Linked DNA regions of Homo sapiens: region 1 is linked to region 2. The links come from fine-mapping of genetic effects on gene expression. Tissue or cell type: whole blood. Region 2 holds a variant in brackets; the other region holds the start of a gene. All regions are shown on one strand. Distances are from middle to middle.

What was found. PIP is the estimated chance that this variant, and not a neighbour inherited with it, causes the effect.
Region 1: it holds the start of IL5RA, and the variant in region 2 is fine-mapped to the expression of IL5RA in whole blood (TOPMed, PIP above 0.99).

What each region holds. Positions count from the first base shown.
Region 1 is chr3:3,106,605-3,114,724 of GRCh38, reverse strand. IL5RA (interleukin 5 receptor subunit alpha) reads left to right here and starts at 4,351. Exons shown (of 12, transcript NM_175726.4): 1 at 4,351-4,780; 2 at 6,034-6,175. RefSeq lists an enhancer at 4,906-4,985 and a silencer at 5,066-5,185.
Region 2 is chr3:3,082,226-3,090,225 of GRCh38, reverse strand. The region is part of intron 9 of IL5RA (interleukin 5 receptor subunit alpha); the gene reads left to right. Among named protein-coding and RNA genes, the nearest start is that of IL5RA, 24 kb to the left of the region's middle. RefSeq lists a silencer at 975-1,144. The variant T/C (reference allele first, on the strand shown) is at 3,798.

The DNA of each region.
Region 1 (8,120 bases), 24 kb before region 2:
CCAGGCTGGAGTGCAGTGGCACGATCTCAGCTCACTGCAACCTTCGCCTCCCGAGTTCAAGCCATTCTCCTGTCTCAGCCTTTGAGTAGCTGGGATTACAGGCACCTGCCACCACACCTGGCTAATTTTTGTGTTTTTTAGTAGAGACAGGGTTTCACCATGCTGGTCAGGCTGGTCTTAAACTCCTGACCTCAGGTGATCTGCCTACCTTGGCTTCCCAAAGTGCTGGGATTAGAGACGTGAGCCACTGCATCCGGTCTTTTTTCACTTTCTTCATGGTATCCTTTGAAGCACAAAAGCTTTTAATTTTGGTGAAATCCAGTTTATCTATTTTTTTCTTTTGTTGTGTCTGCTTTTGTATCTTATTGAAGAAACCATTGGGTAGGTGCGGCGGCTCATGCCTGTAATCCCAGCTCTTTGGGAGGCCAAGGTGGGTGGATCACCTGAGATCAGGAGTTCGAGACCAGCCTGGCCAACATGGCAAAACCCCATCTCTAGTAAAAATATAAAACTTAGCCGGGTGTGGTGGCACACGCCTGTAATCCCAACTTCTCGGGAGGCTGAGGCAGGAGAATCGCATGAATCCAGGAGGCAGGGGAGTTGGCAGTGAGCTGAGATCATACCACTGCACTCCAGCCTAGGCGACAGAGTAAGATTCTGTCTCAAAAAAAAAAAAAAAAAAAAAGAAAGAAACAAAATGAAGGTCATGAAGATTTATGCCTATGTTTTCTTCTAAGAATTTTATAGTTTTGCCTCTTACTTTTAGGTCTTTGATCCCATTGGAATTCATTTTTGTCTATGCTGCGAGGCATTCTTTTGCATGTGGATATGCACCACTTATTGAAAGGCTGATCTTTTCCCCGCTGAATTGTCTTGACACTCTTGTCAAAAATCAATTGACCCTAAATGCGAGAGTTTATTTTTGACTCTCAATTCTATTAAATTGATCTGTATGTCTCTAATATTTTTTAAAATAACTTTTTCTGCCTGCATTTGTACAGAATAAAACGTTTGTAAATATAGAAACACAGAATAAAAGTAAGAGAAACACTAACCCTGCCGTGGTAGAATGAACTGTTGGTCCCATTTCTTCACTCCCCACTAGGAGTTGTCCATGTCCACATCCTTATCATGGCCTTATCATGGTGGAATGTACTTTGGGCTTCGTCCATTTGACTCCGGGCTTGGCCATGCAATTTGCTCAGCCTCTTGAGATGTCAGGGAATGTGACATGAGCAGATGCTTGATGCGTGCTTGTGCAGTTGGTCCTGCTCTCTTGCACTTTTGCTGTCACCATAAAAAGATTATGCCCTGGGTAGCCACTGGTTCCAAATGAATGGCAGATACTTGGAACAAATCTGAACTCACTTTGTGATCTGGATCCCAGCCCAAGATTAAGCAGACCCCAGTCAAAACTCAGACACATGGGCTACAAATACATGCCTATCACAGTTTACCACTGAGGGTTCTGTGGTTGCTTGTTCTGTAGCAATAGCTGACTAATACACCTACCACTTAGAGATAACTATTCCTGTTAGTCTGATCTTCTGACCAAAAATAAGACTGTAAAAAAAAATTACATGTGTGTATACCCTCCTGTTGTTTTTACTTAACATTTTTTCATAATACCCTATGTTATTAAAAGTTCTTGATTGGCTCATACCTGTAATCCCAGCACTTTGGGAGGCCAAGGTGGGAGGATCACAAGCCAGGAGTTTGAGACCACCCTGGCCAACATGGTGAAACCCTCTCCCTACTAAAAATACAAAAATTATCTGGCATGGTGGCACATGCCTGCAATCCCAGCTACTCCGGGGGCTAAGGCACGAGAATCACTTGAACCCAGGAGGCAGAGACTGCAGTGAGCCGAGATCCTGCCACTGCACTCCAGCCTGGGTGACAGGGCACCACCCTGTCTCAAAAGAAAAAAAAAAGTTATTGATAAACATTCCTTTTGACATCCACATCACATATTTCAACCTTGAGCAGTTACATATTTCTCTTCACCATTCCTATAGTACTTTTACTATTTTACTATTGTAAAGGTACAATGAATTTTGCTCTCTTTTGTATAAATCTTGATCTACATTTTTCCATTATTTCCATGGAATCAAGTTCTAGAAGTTGATACCTTTAATAAGCTCCTTTAACCAAAGTTCATGGTAGAGCCACTGAACCATGATTTTCGTTTTATTACTATTCATATTTCTATTTGGCTAAACTCACATTGTTTTGCTTAAAGGATGCAGACACATTTAATTTCACTTTTTAAAAAAACGACTTTTGTGAATTCTTCCAGCATGTTCTATCATACTGTCTTTGGACGTTTACACTTTATTATAAAGAATTAAATTATTGCCATAAAAAACCAAACAGGCCTCGCTCAGTGGCTCACGTCTGTAATCCCAGCACTTTGGGAGGCCGAGGTGGGTGGATCACCTGTCAGGAGTTCAAGACCAGACTGACCAGCGTGGTGAAACCCCATCTCTACTAAAAATACAAAAAAATTAGCTGGGTGTGGTGGCGGGGGCCTGTAATCCCAGCTACTCAGGAGGCTGAGGCAGGAGAATCGGTTGAACCCGGGAGGTGGAGGTTGTGGTGAGCTGAGATCGCGCCATTGCACTCCAGCCTAGGCAACAAGACTGAAATTCCATCTCAAAACAAACAAACAACCCCCCCGCAACCCCCCGCCAGAAAAAAAAAAAGTCCCTGCCTCTCATTTTTTCGTTTGTGCTTATACAGAAACATAGAGACAGTGTTTCTGTATGAGCATGTGTTTGCTTTGTTTGTTTGTTTGTTTTTATTGGCGTAGTTAATTAAAGATCATATACCCAGGAAGGTGGTATGGAAGGAGCAGCCAGATCTAATTTTCTTTATACCCTTCACCGCGCCTAGCATAGTGCATAGGTGCATTCAATGAATATTTGAGTAAATGAATGTAAGAAATATACAGACCATTGGCTGAGTGTGGTGGCTCACACCTGTAATCCCAGAACTTTAAGAGGCCAAGGCGGGTGCATCACTTGAGGTCAGGAATTTGAGACAAGCCTGGCCAACATGGTGAAACCCCATCTCTACCAAAAATACAAAAAATTAGCCAGGCGTGGTGGCGGGTGCCTGTAATCCCAACTACTCGGGAGGCTGAGGCAAGAGAATCGCTTGAACCTGGGAGGCAGAGGTTGCAGTGAGCAGAGATTGCGCCACTGCACTCCAGCCTGGGCGACAGAGTGAGACTTCATCTCAAAAAATATACATATATATATACGGAGAGAGGCCATTAAAGCAGGCTTTTAAGCCAGAAATTACTGTCTTCCCAATGATTAATAAGTATTTTTAAGGTTTCATTAGTGACAAATATGTTACATGTATAAACAGATGGGCAGGACTTAAAAGAGTAGGCCAGATAGTTGATACTATATCTAAACTTTTCTGGGTGCCTCTTAGCAAATAAATGGATCTCTCTCTGTTCCTTGTTTTACTTCCCCTTTCCCCGAGGAAAATCACATTTTTCAGGTCTGACAACAATTTTCAACCTGATAACAATTGCTCCGGTTTCATTTTGGCAACTGCTAAAATGGTCACCTTGGGAACCCCAGGCACACACGCTGACTGTACTTGCACAGCTTCTACACTGAGCCTTTTGGAAATTGCCTCCAGGAAGCCTGTCTCTCATCTCACAAACAGAACCACTGATCCAACCTGGGCCACCATCTTTCTGCATCTGCTCTGTCTGAGACTCTCCCAGTCAGCTCCTAAGGAGACAGGGAATCCTGCATCACTCATCGCTTAGGCTAGACTGAAGGTCTCCTTCCAAAGGCAACTACTTACTACTCTCTGCCGTGGGTCATACAATAAGCACTACTCTTATCTATTCACACGCTAAGCTACTTTTTTAAAGCCAGCTTTGCTAGCTAGCCACCTCGAAATTCCCCAGAAGGAATCAAACAGAAATGGAACAAAGGACAGGAAAAGCCAAGGAGGTTTGCTGAAATTGAAGCATTCTGAAGACAGCTGGGTGGTAAAATGGATGTGACGTGAGGAAGGTGGTCTTGGGTGCACCCACAGACCAACACTGCCATTGTTACAATTTGTGTAGGATGATCTCAGGTGACAGACAGCAGCAATTTATCACACCCAGAAACGCATCCCCCACACATATTTACTTGAGGGTACCAGACCTGCTCACAAAGCAGAGAAGAGCTAAGGCGGTTCTCTAAGGGCAGAGAATTGCTGCTATTGCCTAGTGAGTGGGGAGAGGGTACTCCTCAGGCCTTACTTCCTATCAAATCATGTGTCAGTGTTGCCTAGGAGACAGAGGCACAGTAACTACTGTAGCCAAACAAGGCACATAAACAAAACAGAAATGCAACGCTTTAGAGTACCCACGGAAAACTTGTTTACCTTGTCACCATGAGTAAAAGTTAATTCCCACTCCTGAAGAGAGCAAACCAACTCTGAAAGAGAGTGAAAATGCAGACAAGACAGTTATCAGATAATGGCTATCTGGACGAGAGATTCTTTCGTTTGACAGCAGTTTGGTTGTTGGGAGTTCCAGTTCAGCTCCTGCACAGTTGCTCTGTACAAATCCTCCTCCATATTTGCTTAGAGAAAACGTGTTGCCATCCCATCATGAAGGAAGCTGCCTGAGAGTTTTTAACCATTACAGCCGTGATGATGAAAGAGTGAAGAACCGCCTCTAAGTTAAAAAGTGCACCCAGAGATAAGGTTCGTTCTCAATGCCCTGCCGCTGCTTCTCATCGCATGGCCACCGCATTTCTCAGTAAGTGGGAATCAAATGCTTCACTCACCACAGAGTAAGCAAATAAATATCTTTTTTCTATGACATGGGCTGTAACAATACCCTGTGCTCCACCTCCTAATAATTTCACTACACCCAGGGTGGGGAGGAGGGTTAGGAAAAGCAAGAAACAATGACTTCTAAATATATGACAAACTTGTAAACAACAAAAAGGGGAAACAAAACTCCTTATAATTCTATTATTATTAGCAGGGACAGAACTAATAATGGTCCCATTAAACTTGCATCATTAGGCAGGTCATGTTGATTCTGGGTATAACCTTCTATTCTTGTGTTTTGGCTCAGTAAGTGAGATGTGCAAATCCGTGGCAAGGTGAGTCATATGAAAACAACACCTATGGTTTTGTTAGTGCTTACATCAATATAAGACATCTGTTTTCCACCGCTCCAGATAATTATGCAATTAAAATGAGAACATATATTCTGCCAAGATTTCTTAGAAAATAAATGAGCTTCCAAAATAGGGTATAGGGTTTAATAAAATATCTCAGGAAGTTTCAGAGTTAAGCAAGAAATCTACAAATAAAGAAACAACAACAAAAAGTAGAGAGAGGCACTTTATCTAACTGAAGGAGGCGTTCTGCTTTTTCTTTCTGGTAGGGGTTCTTGGATTTCCAAGATTGTTTCATTGTATATAAAATGTACCCAAATTTGCTGAAATATGTCACTTGGTTTTGTGTTCACTAATGTATTTACCTAAAGCAAGGTAAGCATATTTCCATGTAGACAGAAAAAAGGATGAAATGGAACCAAAAAAAAGGGGGAAAAAGGAGAGACAGAGCGAGAATATTTTAATACCCTTGAGCCTAAAATTAATAAACACATGAAAAGTGATGGTGCTTTTATAGCCATGTGAATAATGTACTTAGTACTTGCTTTAATGAATTACCATACTGAACATTTTATTACCTGGCATGATTTCTATTTTAAGTGAATATGTCCTCTTTCATGGTTATCGAAAAAGGAATTTATGTAGCTATTTGTTAAAAGTTTGCATTTCAAAGCAAAATAAAGTTTTAGAAGTTAAATCACCTCATTTGTTTATATTATTTGAAACACCGCATGGGAAATTTTTAGGCAAAATACCAAAAGTGGGCCAGGCTTGTTACACACTCCCCAGCCTGCTGCTCTCCTGACCTAACTCATTCCTCTGTTAGGTTTCACCGCACATTGCACATTAGGGCTGTGCACTAATTTGCTTCTATTCCACACAGGGCCAGGCACATTGAGCATTGGTCCTGTGCCTGACGCTATGCTAGATGCTGGGGTTGCAGCCACGAGCATAGACACGACAGACACGGTCCTCGCCATCTTCTGTTGAGTACTGGTCGGAACAAGAGGATCGTCTGTAGACAGGTACGCCCAGGAGCATGGATGTGAGATGACAAATTGCACCATGTGCAATTGGCAGGAAATATTTTGCTACTGGGATATTTGTAGCAAACTCTTTCTTCTATTTTTCCAAATACTCAAGGTGGCAACACCATTTCCACTTGGACTGACAGAGAGTTTTATGTTTACAGCCACAACCTGAACTCATGAGTTCTATTTTAGGACTATTTCAGAAATTTAATCAAAAGTACAGTAGTAGTAAAAAAAAATTGCATGCATGATAAGTGGTCCTTATTATTCATTTATATATTTAGGAATGTGCAGTTTTTCATTGGGGGGTAATGCAATATACCTAGGTAAACATGTCTTTTGCAGTTTATACCTTGGTTTATTCTTCATCCCCCAAGAGATAACTTTTATTGCTGATTATACTGTACAGGATAAAAGAGAAAGTAAACTCTTCATATTTAAAAGCCTACCAGAGCATGAATCCTCTCAGTTGCTTTACAATTTCTGCCACTAAGGTTGAGTCTGGAATTAGGTGTTACCACAGTTGACTCAAAAAGGTTTTAAAAACAGGGGTGCCAGTATAACTTTGGTTATAAAACGAACGCCCCAGGCAGAAAAATAAGTTGGGAAAAAAAAGAGGGGAAAATATTTGTAAGTCTGAACTTCAGTAGAATTTGACCAGTTCTCAAGAACGCTGGGGAAATCCACTGCTAATTGTCAAAATTTTACCAAACTTCCTAGAAACACCTATAGGGAAGGAGACTGTGGTTGTTTTCTCCAAAATTTCAAAAAATGTAACACCTATCAGAAACTAGATTTTTAGAGAGCACTTGAGGAATTTTAGATTGACTCAATGAAATGTTATATGAGCAAGTAGATCATGAGATCATGATTTCTCTTAAAGATTGAGCATGTCTTCCTGGTGATAGATAAACAACCTATAGTTGCTTCATTCTGCTTAGTTTGCATCTTATTTTAACAATTTAATGGTTTTCTGCTAGATTTTAATTGGTAGCCATGAGAAGAATGAGTCGAACATATTGTCGATATATATGTTTAAGCTAATGAAGTCGCTCTATTCTTTTATAGTGAAATATGACCCAGTTGACATCTACATAACAGTGTATCTTTGGATTAAAGAAATGGCCTGAAGAGATTTGTTGTTGCTGTTGTTGTTGTTGTTTTAAGCAGGGACAAGAAGTATTAAGGGGCCACAGAGAGTGAGCAGAATTGTAGAAAACATGGTATCAAATCCTGAAGCTCTAGTACTATTCAACCTTATGTAAAATTTATCTGACTCACAAAAAAAAAAAAATGTCATTCTTTTTAATATTTAGACCCCTACTGAGTACCTTGTGCTGCCTATAGGACAACTGATTTTGTTCAAAAGCACCTCTTTTTAAATATGACAATGAGACATGAAAAAGCTGTCTATTTATTTATGGCCAAAAACTAATAATCAAAAATTTTTTGAATGATTAAATTTGAAAAACAATTCTATTTTTAGCAGCTATAAAATCAGAATACATGACAAATTCTAGGGGAGAGTGCTTGCTCATATAAAATATTCAATTATCTCTCCACTGAGATATTCAACAGTTTTATCATTTACTTCAACAATTTAATTGCAAAGGATAAATACATGTTTATTGCTTTTACAAGTACATTTATAACATAGTTTTACTTTGCCAGTCAGTGAAAGTCACAAAGAAATATTAATTTTGCAGTTTTTTCTGACCTAGAATTCCTATTATTGAAAATTAGTGCAAAATCAGAGCATATTTAATATTATTTCAGGAAATGCTGACATTTTAAGAAATCACCTTCATAACTTAAAGAGGAAGCTATCTTTGTTGCTGTTCTTAAGGAATTTTTATCTTTGCTTCTCAGGCTTAGTAGATTACTAGTGTTTTCCCTTAATTCATTAAAATTCTCACTTGTTGAAAATTTTAAAAAAATT
Region 2 (8,000 bases):
TTTCCTGCCCCACACCGTATCTGAAATAAAAACAACAGCAGGGATAGCAGATTACATGTGTTTTTTAATTTTTATTTATTTTGCCAAGCACTATGCTAAATACATAATCTTAGTCCTATCAAAAAACTTGTTTGGAAAGTTTAGGTAATTGGCTTAACTCTGTTCTGCATGGCCAACAAGTGGCAGGGATGGGGCTCTAACCCCAGATTAACTGACTCTAGCACTTGATCTCTGGACACTCTGGCATGGTGGGACAGGATTCTGCAAGCTTTAAAGTGCTGGGTAGATTAAAGTCTTATTTAAGAGATCTTGGGGATGGGTGCGGTGGCTCACACCAGTAATCCCAGCACTTTGGGAGGCCGAGGTGGGCAGATCAGGAGATCGACACCATCCTGGCTAACATGGTGAAACTTGTCTCTACTAAAAATACAAAAAATTAGCTGGGCGTGGTGGTGCGCGCCTGTAGTCCCAGCTACTCGGGAGGCAGGAGAATCACTTGAACCCAGGAGGCAGAGGTTGCAGTGAGCCAAGATTGCGCCACTGTACTCCAGCCTGGGCGACATCTCAAAAAAAAAAAAAGACATCTTGGTAGCCAACCTTTGTGATTATGGGTGATCAAGCATGTGGATGCCATCTCTCATGAATCCTATGAGGTATTCATCAACCATTGGAAGAGTATACATAGGAGAGATTTAGTTCAGGCACATGCCAAAATGTTCTACTATTTAATTCATTCGCTTAAGCTATGGGGTAGGTCTTCAGGAAAGTCTCGGGCAGTGACCCATCAGCCCATGTGAAAATGACTCCGATCTGACACACAGCAGGTAGATTTCCACTGAAGACTGGGAAAGATAAGGAAAGGCCTAATAAATGGAGAACTGTTCTGAATCTGCCAGGGGGCTGGTCGTGCTAAGTTACCGAGTTCCCAAGGGAGAATAGCGTCCCCTAAAGTTGTGCAACACACAACCAGCTCAGCCTTACAGGGGTAGCCCTCACATCACTCAGAGAGACTTACAGGAGCAGCATGAGCCTTCCTGGGGAGAGGGAACTGAAAGGACACTAAAAGGAAGTGAGAATGGGCTAAACTCACCTGCTTCATAATTCTGTTGAGACCAATCTTCCCCTCCCTCCCCTCCTCCCTAGGTTGATGCCCCCACCTAACTAAACTGACCCAGCACACACAGGACTTTCCTCGACATGGCTCCATTTGCACCAGGAAAATTCACTCTGTTCCCCAGGAGGGAAACAAATACGAGAAGCATTAATCAGTCTCAGGGAATTTTTAACAAGGTCATTAATTTTGTCAAATGCCTAAGGTGGAAGTTTAATTTTTGTTACTTGAATTCAATAGACTTCTTTTTAAAAATGCTTTATGTTACTCCCCAGGGGCACAAAACTCACTGGCTCAAAACTATTGCTATTTCTAAGTGTCTTCCCAACACCTCTCTCTATATGTATTCAATTTTGGAGATTTTAAAATGCTGTCTAAGGAAACTTAAACCAAGATGATGGATACCAAGGTCAGAATCCTAGATAAGAAGTTAGTTATGCTTTCTGAGTCTTTGACTTTTGAAGTCATAGTCAATGTTGACTGTAGAGAATTTAGAACGTATTAGGTGAAAAAGAAGCACTAGATATTCAGGACATCTAGGTTTTTAGCTACGGCTCTGCCAACATCTAGCTCTATGTTATAAGCTAGAGATGACAAAAGGTAATGTTTTGTGAGCAAAGTAATCAGAGACTGCTTAGAGTGCAGCATTGAGGATTCTGAGGCTAAATTTAGATTGTCAGAAGGAATCGTGATCTCCTGCCACCACTGCAAGGGACAGAGTGGTGACGAGCATGACAGGGTTTTTCCACCCTGGCCTAGTCAGTCTACACCTAACCTCTCTGGGCTTAGCATCCTCACCTGTAAAATATAAGTGCTGCACTACAAACCTGCTTCCACCTCTGCCATTCACATTCACCTCCTCTGCACCACCCCACTGCAAAAGTGCTGAGAGTGAAATTGTGATCCATAACGAGCGCTTATTTTAAGCTTGTTTTTAATTTATTATTCACTCTCCACTTTAGAGCTCTCTTACCATTATTATTTCCTAAATAACACCTTCCTAGTTTGAATCTGGGCTCATTATAGTTTTCCCCCAGGTGTACCTCGTTGCCATTATCTATAGCAAATCCCATTTCATTTACTGCCATCCTTTTCATGAAGATGAGCTGATTAATATTACTACTCACCTTATAAATCCATCCTTTCTGGAATTTACTCCTCTGCTCAGTTTAGGATCATTAGTGAATTTAATCAATGTAGACTTTCCATTTTCATCAAGATGATTAATAAACGTAATAGGAAGTCCAAGCCCCTCTGGGACATTTTGCATGGCTCTTTTTTATCCCTTGAGGATGCAGCAATAATTATACTCAGCTAGGAGTCCATCAGGCGATTTTGCTGCTACATTCATTTCCTTTAACTATGCTTTCTCCTCTTTTGCCTTATCTTAAAAACAGCATGCTGTAGCCCTCCCACTCCATTTTACTCCAAGACTCAACTCAAATATCAACCCTTTCATAGTTATTAATTTCCCCCCCATTATTTTAATGTAAGAAAATGGAGGTCCTGAGATACTAAATGACTCAGCAGTTGTCAAACAGCCAAGAAGTGGCTATTAATATACAATTTTCTCAAATAGATGACATATGAGCCAATCAGTGAATTAGAATAGATTTGATTAACTAATTAACCCATTATAGCCCAAGGTTATTTAATTTAAAAAATGAGACACAGAGTAAGTTTTGATTGATGAGATAAGGTGAGCTGGGAGAGGCTGGGGGTGCTGTCCAGCTCTGTTGGTAAGGTCCCTGGCCAGCCAAGGAGCACAGGGGACAGCAGGGAGGGGGTATAGTTAGCAAGTGAGTGCTCTTTGCTTGCTCTGAACAGTGCCTGATTGGCTCTCCTGTCCTAGAATTTCCAGAGCATGGAATTTTTTAAATTAAAAACAATTGTTTTATTTCAGCAGCTTTAGGGGTACAAGTGGTTTTTGGTTACATGGATGAATTGCATAGTGGTTAAGTCTGGGCTTTTATTGTACCCATCAGCTAAATAGTTTACATCATACTGAATAGGTGACTTTTCATCCCCCATGCTCCTCCCACCCTCTCCCCTTCTGCGTCTTCAATGTTCATTATACCACTCTGTATGCCTCTGTGTACCCAAAGCTTAGCTCCCATTTATAAGTGAGAACATATGGTATTTGGTTTTTTGTTCCTGATTACTTTCCTTAGGGTAATGGCCTCCAATTCCATCCAAGTTGCTGCAAAAGACATTATTGCATTCTTTTTGTACAGCTGAGTAGTATTTCATTGTGTATGTTTACCACATTTTCTTTATCCACTCATCGGTTGATAGGTACTTAGGTGGATTCCATATCTTTGCAATTGTGAATGGTGCTGTGATAAACATGCACGTTAGGTGTCTTTTTGATATAGTGACTTCTCCTTTGGAAGATTTCTCAAAAAACTAAATGAGGCCTACAATTTGATTCAGAATTTTTTTTTAAGAGATGAGGGGTCTCACTATGTTGCCCAGGCTGGTCTCGAACTCCTGGGCTCAGGCAATCCTCCTGCCTTAGCCTCCTGAGTAGCTGGGACTATAGCTGGGCTGGGATTTTTTTTTTTATGGAAGTAGCAGTTTCATTTTATCAGTACTCGTTATCACCTGCCCTAGATCAGCTGGCTTCTCTGTCTTATCTTAAGAGCTAACTTCCCAATTTTTACATGTCTTTCTCCTTTTTAAACTT[T/C]CTTAACTTCCGGATTCTTCTGTTCCTTTGTTATCTTTGCTGTCTCCTGTTTATCGAAACCTTTTGTTTCCTGACCCTGGTCTTCATGAAGCTGTGTGTTTTCTCAAGTCCATCATCTTCTCTTCTTCCCGCCATCCATGAAGCTCAAATGCCAAGTGTGAAACGAGGAATGATGAAAATAAATTTTTCCATAGTCATATCCTTGCTTGAGGAAAAGAGACTTATGTGGGTCTACCCTGCACTTATTTCTGGCCGTGTCTTTGGTCAGGATCAGTGGTTCTGAGAACTGCTTCTTCTGTGACAGACTACAATCACTGCAATTGCCCTTCAAAGAAACGATGGAGTTTTGCTTTGACCTCACTGAAAGCAAAATTTGATGGCCCAAATTTGACTTTCGTTAGTCTTGAGATGTATGGCACCTACACCCAGGGGAGTAGAAGACTCAGCACCGTTTTCAGATCACTCATTCATGAGGTCACAGCAATTTTCAGATCACTCATTCATGAGGTCACAGCAGACAGGGGCACAGCAGACAGCTCCTTAAACATAGAGATGTGTTGTTCATAGGAAATCTTGGCCTTTGCTTTCCTGTCGGAGTTTGAGCTGGTGGAGTGGGGGTCTCAGAGTCCCGTGACACATCCTAGAATCTGTTAGGACTTAAGGAAAATGGGTTGAGGTAGGGTATCAGGGTGGCCTATGGCAATATGGGCTGGAAGGAAGGCCACCCCAGAGAAACTCCTGTGCCTTTTTCTTTTGACTTGATATTCATGGGCTGATGTGTGAGGTGACTTGGTACCTTTGTCCTGGGCACCTGGAATCAAAAACTGAAGTCACCTTTGGGACCATCAAATGCATCTTCATTTTCCAGTTTGCCTGCATTGTGCCAAGGTCCCGCAGCTCCAACCTGATTCCTTGCACTCTGACTCCCACCTGGAGCTCTAATCCCTTCTCTCTGTCTCTCCTGATCCCGTCACTCTCCTTCAGCAGCTTTTTCTTGTTAAATTCTCACACTGTGGCAAAACACGAAGGAAGATGAAAGGGAAATGTTGTAGGAGGGTCCACATGAGCTATCCCTAGGCCTTCCAAAATAATCTTGCAAAACTCTTTTGAGGTTACAGATGGGAGCCACTGGGTCTACACAGTAGCAGAAATTGCTTAAAAGTAACAAGAGTTGACCCAATAACAACATGAAAGACCCACTTAGGCTTACCTAAGACTAACACAGCTTATTGTGGTTCTGCTTTCCCTGTGTAGACAGATGGCTTGGTCACACTGCTTCCTTTTGTCCAGGCTGGTTAGATCCCACCTGGCAGCCCCACCATTTGTTCCCACCAGGGGGGGCGGACTGCCTCACGCCTGTGGTCATCCCACTAGCCTGAAGGAGGCCTAACAGGGACCTTTCAGATTTCATCTCCAAATGCCAGGAGCAGGGAGTTCCCACAGTGCTTTCAGGCGCAGCCACCTCTATTGGTGCCTACATCACCCTTCTAGGCATACATTCTGCCTCATGGAGGGATGGCAGCTTGTGGGAGGGAGGGATGCTGTCAGGGGGCCAGCCCCTGTGCAGGACATATTCATCTACATCATCTTTTATCATCACACACATGATTTCCTAATCACACAGGTGAGAAAACAGATGCAGAGAGGTGAAGGAACTGCTGGAAGCTACACAGATAGTAGGTGGGACATCCGGGTTTGGAACACAGCTAGAGGATTGGCTCCACACCTGGGTTCTTTTCGAGATGTTCCATTGCCCCGGGGGCTATTACTCCAGCCAGGGAAACTGAGGCTGGAGGATGGGCCACACTCAGCAAGAGGGGCTGGGGGCTGTGCAAGCAGGAAGCTCTGCCAGCTCTTGACCCTGTCAGCCTCCATCCAGACAAGCCATTGGGAATGAAGTTAGCCTCTTCAGGCCATTCTTGTCTAAATGTTCCTGTCCAAGTTCTTCATAAGATTCATCTTAATGAACATTTTGAACCCTAAATCCTTGAAGGGTAGGAATACCCATACCCTTTTCTGTTCCTCAGTATCTAGAATATTTGGTGTGTGTTTATTTCTCCTGGCCTGAGTTTATCTCTCTGCATTTTTAGAATTCTGATAGCACTCCAATTTTGGCCTTGCTTTGATGAAAGGGAAATTATCTTGATGAATTTGTTGACACAATGCATTTCATCCTAATCGTAATTATAGTAAGTAATATTTATTGAGCACCTGTGTACCAGCACTGTGCTAAGCACTTCACATGTGTTAATTCATTCGATCCTTATCCCTGTTTTATAATGCAGGACATAGAAGCTGGAGAGGCTACCCTGCCGAAGGTCACTTTGGTAGCAAGTGGCAGAACCAGGACTAAACCTTTTTTTTTTTTTTTTTTTATGAGATGGAGTCTCACTCTCTCACCCAGGCTGGAGGGCAGTCACACAATGATCTCAGCTCACTGCACCCTCCACCTCCCATGGGGGTTCAAGCAATTTTCCTGCCTCAGCCACCGGAGTAGCTGGAATTACTCATGCCACCCCGCCTGGCTAATTTTGTATCTTTAGTAGAGACAGCATTTTCACCATGTTGGCCAGGCTGATCTTGAACTCGTGACCTCAAGTGATCCACCCACCTTGGCCTCCCAAAGTGCTGGGATTGCAGGCCTGAGCCACCACACTTGGTCTAGGACTAACCCTCTTTATCCCTTGTTGCTTACTTCTATGTGATGACTACATCCTCTGCAGCCAGCTTTCATCTGCTTTAGCAGGTTGATAAAATAGGCCCAGCAACCCCTTATAGGGAAGAAAGTTCTGGGTTGCTTGGGGGGCTCCAGAAGGTACATAGCCCTTGGTGCTTTGTGGGAAAGCCTGCAGAGAAGAAAACTGCCATGAGGAATTCCCCACTCAACTTCATCAAGTCTAGTCCTACTGGGGGATATTGCAGACAAGCAGTACTGCAGTGAGCCATCCAGCTGATCCTGAATGCACACACAAATACACGCATGCACACAAATACACACACGTACACAAATACACAGTCTCCATTTCCTCTCTCTATTCGGTTAATGCAAGCCCAGTTCCACCAGATGAACATAGTGCAAGCTGTGTGTGTGATCCGGGTCCTTCACTACTCTACACATTTTGTTCACTGAGGCTGCATTTTGCTGCCCTCTTTTTATTTCTCTAAACCAGGTACCTCCCACAGTCCATTTGACAGCTGCCTTGAAAGCTCACTCACCCAAAAGGTCTGCTCCTGACTTGCCTGCACTGGAAGCCTGTGATCTGGTTTGGGATGTTCATTCATGAATGATGCCATTCTCCCCTCCAACTGGAGGCAAGTCACAGGAAGCTAGTTAAACCCTGTATCATAGACTGCCATATTGACATCCTCTCAATTATCCAACCCTGTTGGTGCCATTTGAACTTCTCCCAGCACCTGCTGGCTCTAAAAACACAGCAGGCCTGCTCTGTTGGAAGCATCCCATCAATTTACTAATTAGCTCTTTTCCCTGGAAACCTATTGTTGAGTCTGAAATCAGATTCAAAATCAATATGTAAGCACTGAAAGTTCATACTTACATGCAGAATTTAAGGTGTAACAGGCTTCCAAATCAAATTCATCTCCTAAGAGCTAGTAGTCTAAACTTCATACATCATAGAATTCTAGATCAAGAGAGACTGCAGCCCTAAAAGGGAAGTGGCTTGACAAAGCTCCCAGAGGCAGAGCTGGGACTAGTTTGGGTCCAATACTTGCAGTCCTTCTGCCCTCTGTGTTGCCACTGTCCCAGCCCACCTGCACCCCATGTCCCACTCCATATACATTCTAGGGTCATAGAAGAATAGCAGACTATTGGCTTATTTGCAAGGTCAAATGCTTAAGATGTCAAAAATAATGGAAACTGAGGTCCCCAGACACCAGACAACTGAATTTCCCAAATGCTTTACGTTAGTGATGCCTAAAAAGCACCCAGGAATCAAATGGGGAGTCTGGAGAGCTTCTCCTCCTTACAAGAATAGGCTGTGTGACTTCTTCTTTCTGAAACCCATCTTTGCATAACCAAATGGCAGTGCCCATTGATTTCTTGAAAAGAAACATCTGTGACTTCCTTTTTAATGGCAAGAAAGGTATTCTCCTTGAGTCAGAGCAGAGAGTCAAATTACCTCGAAATACTTTTTTTTTAATCTCCAAGGTTGGAGACCCCAGAATTCAAATTAAGACTATACT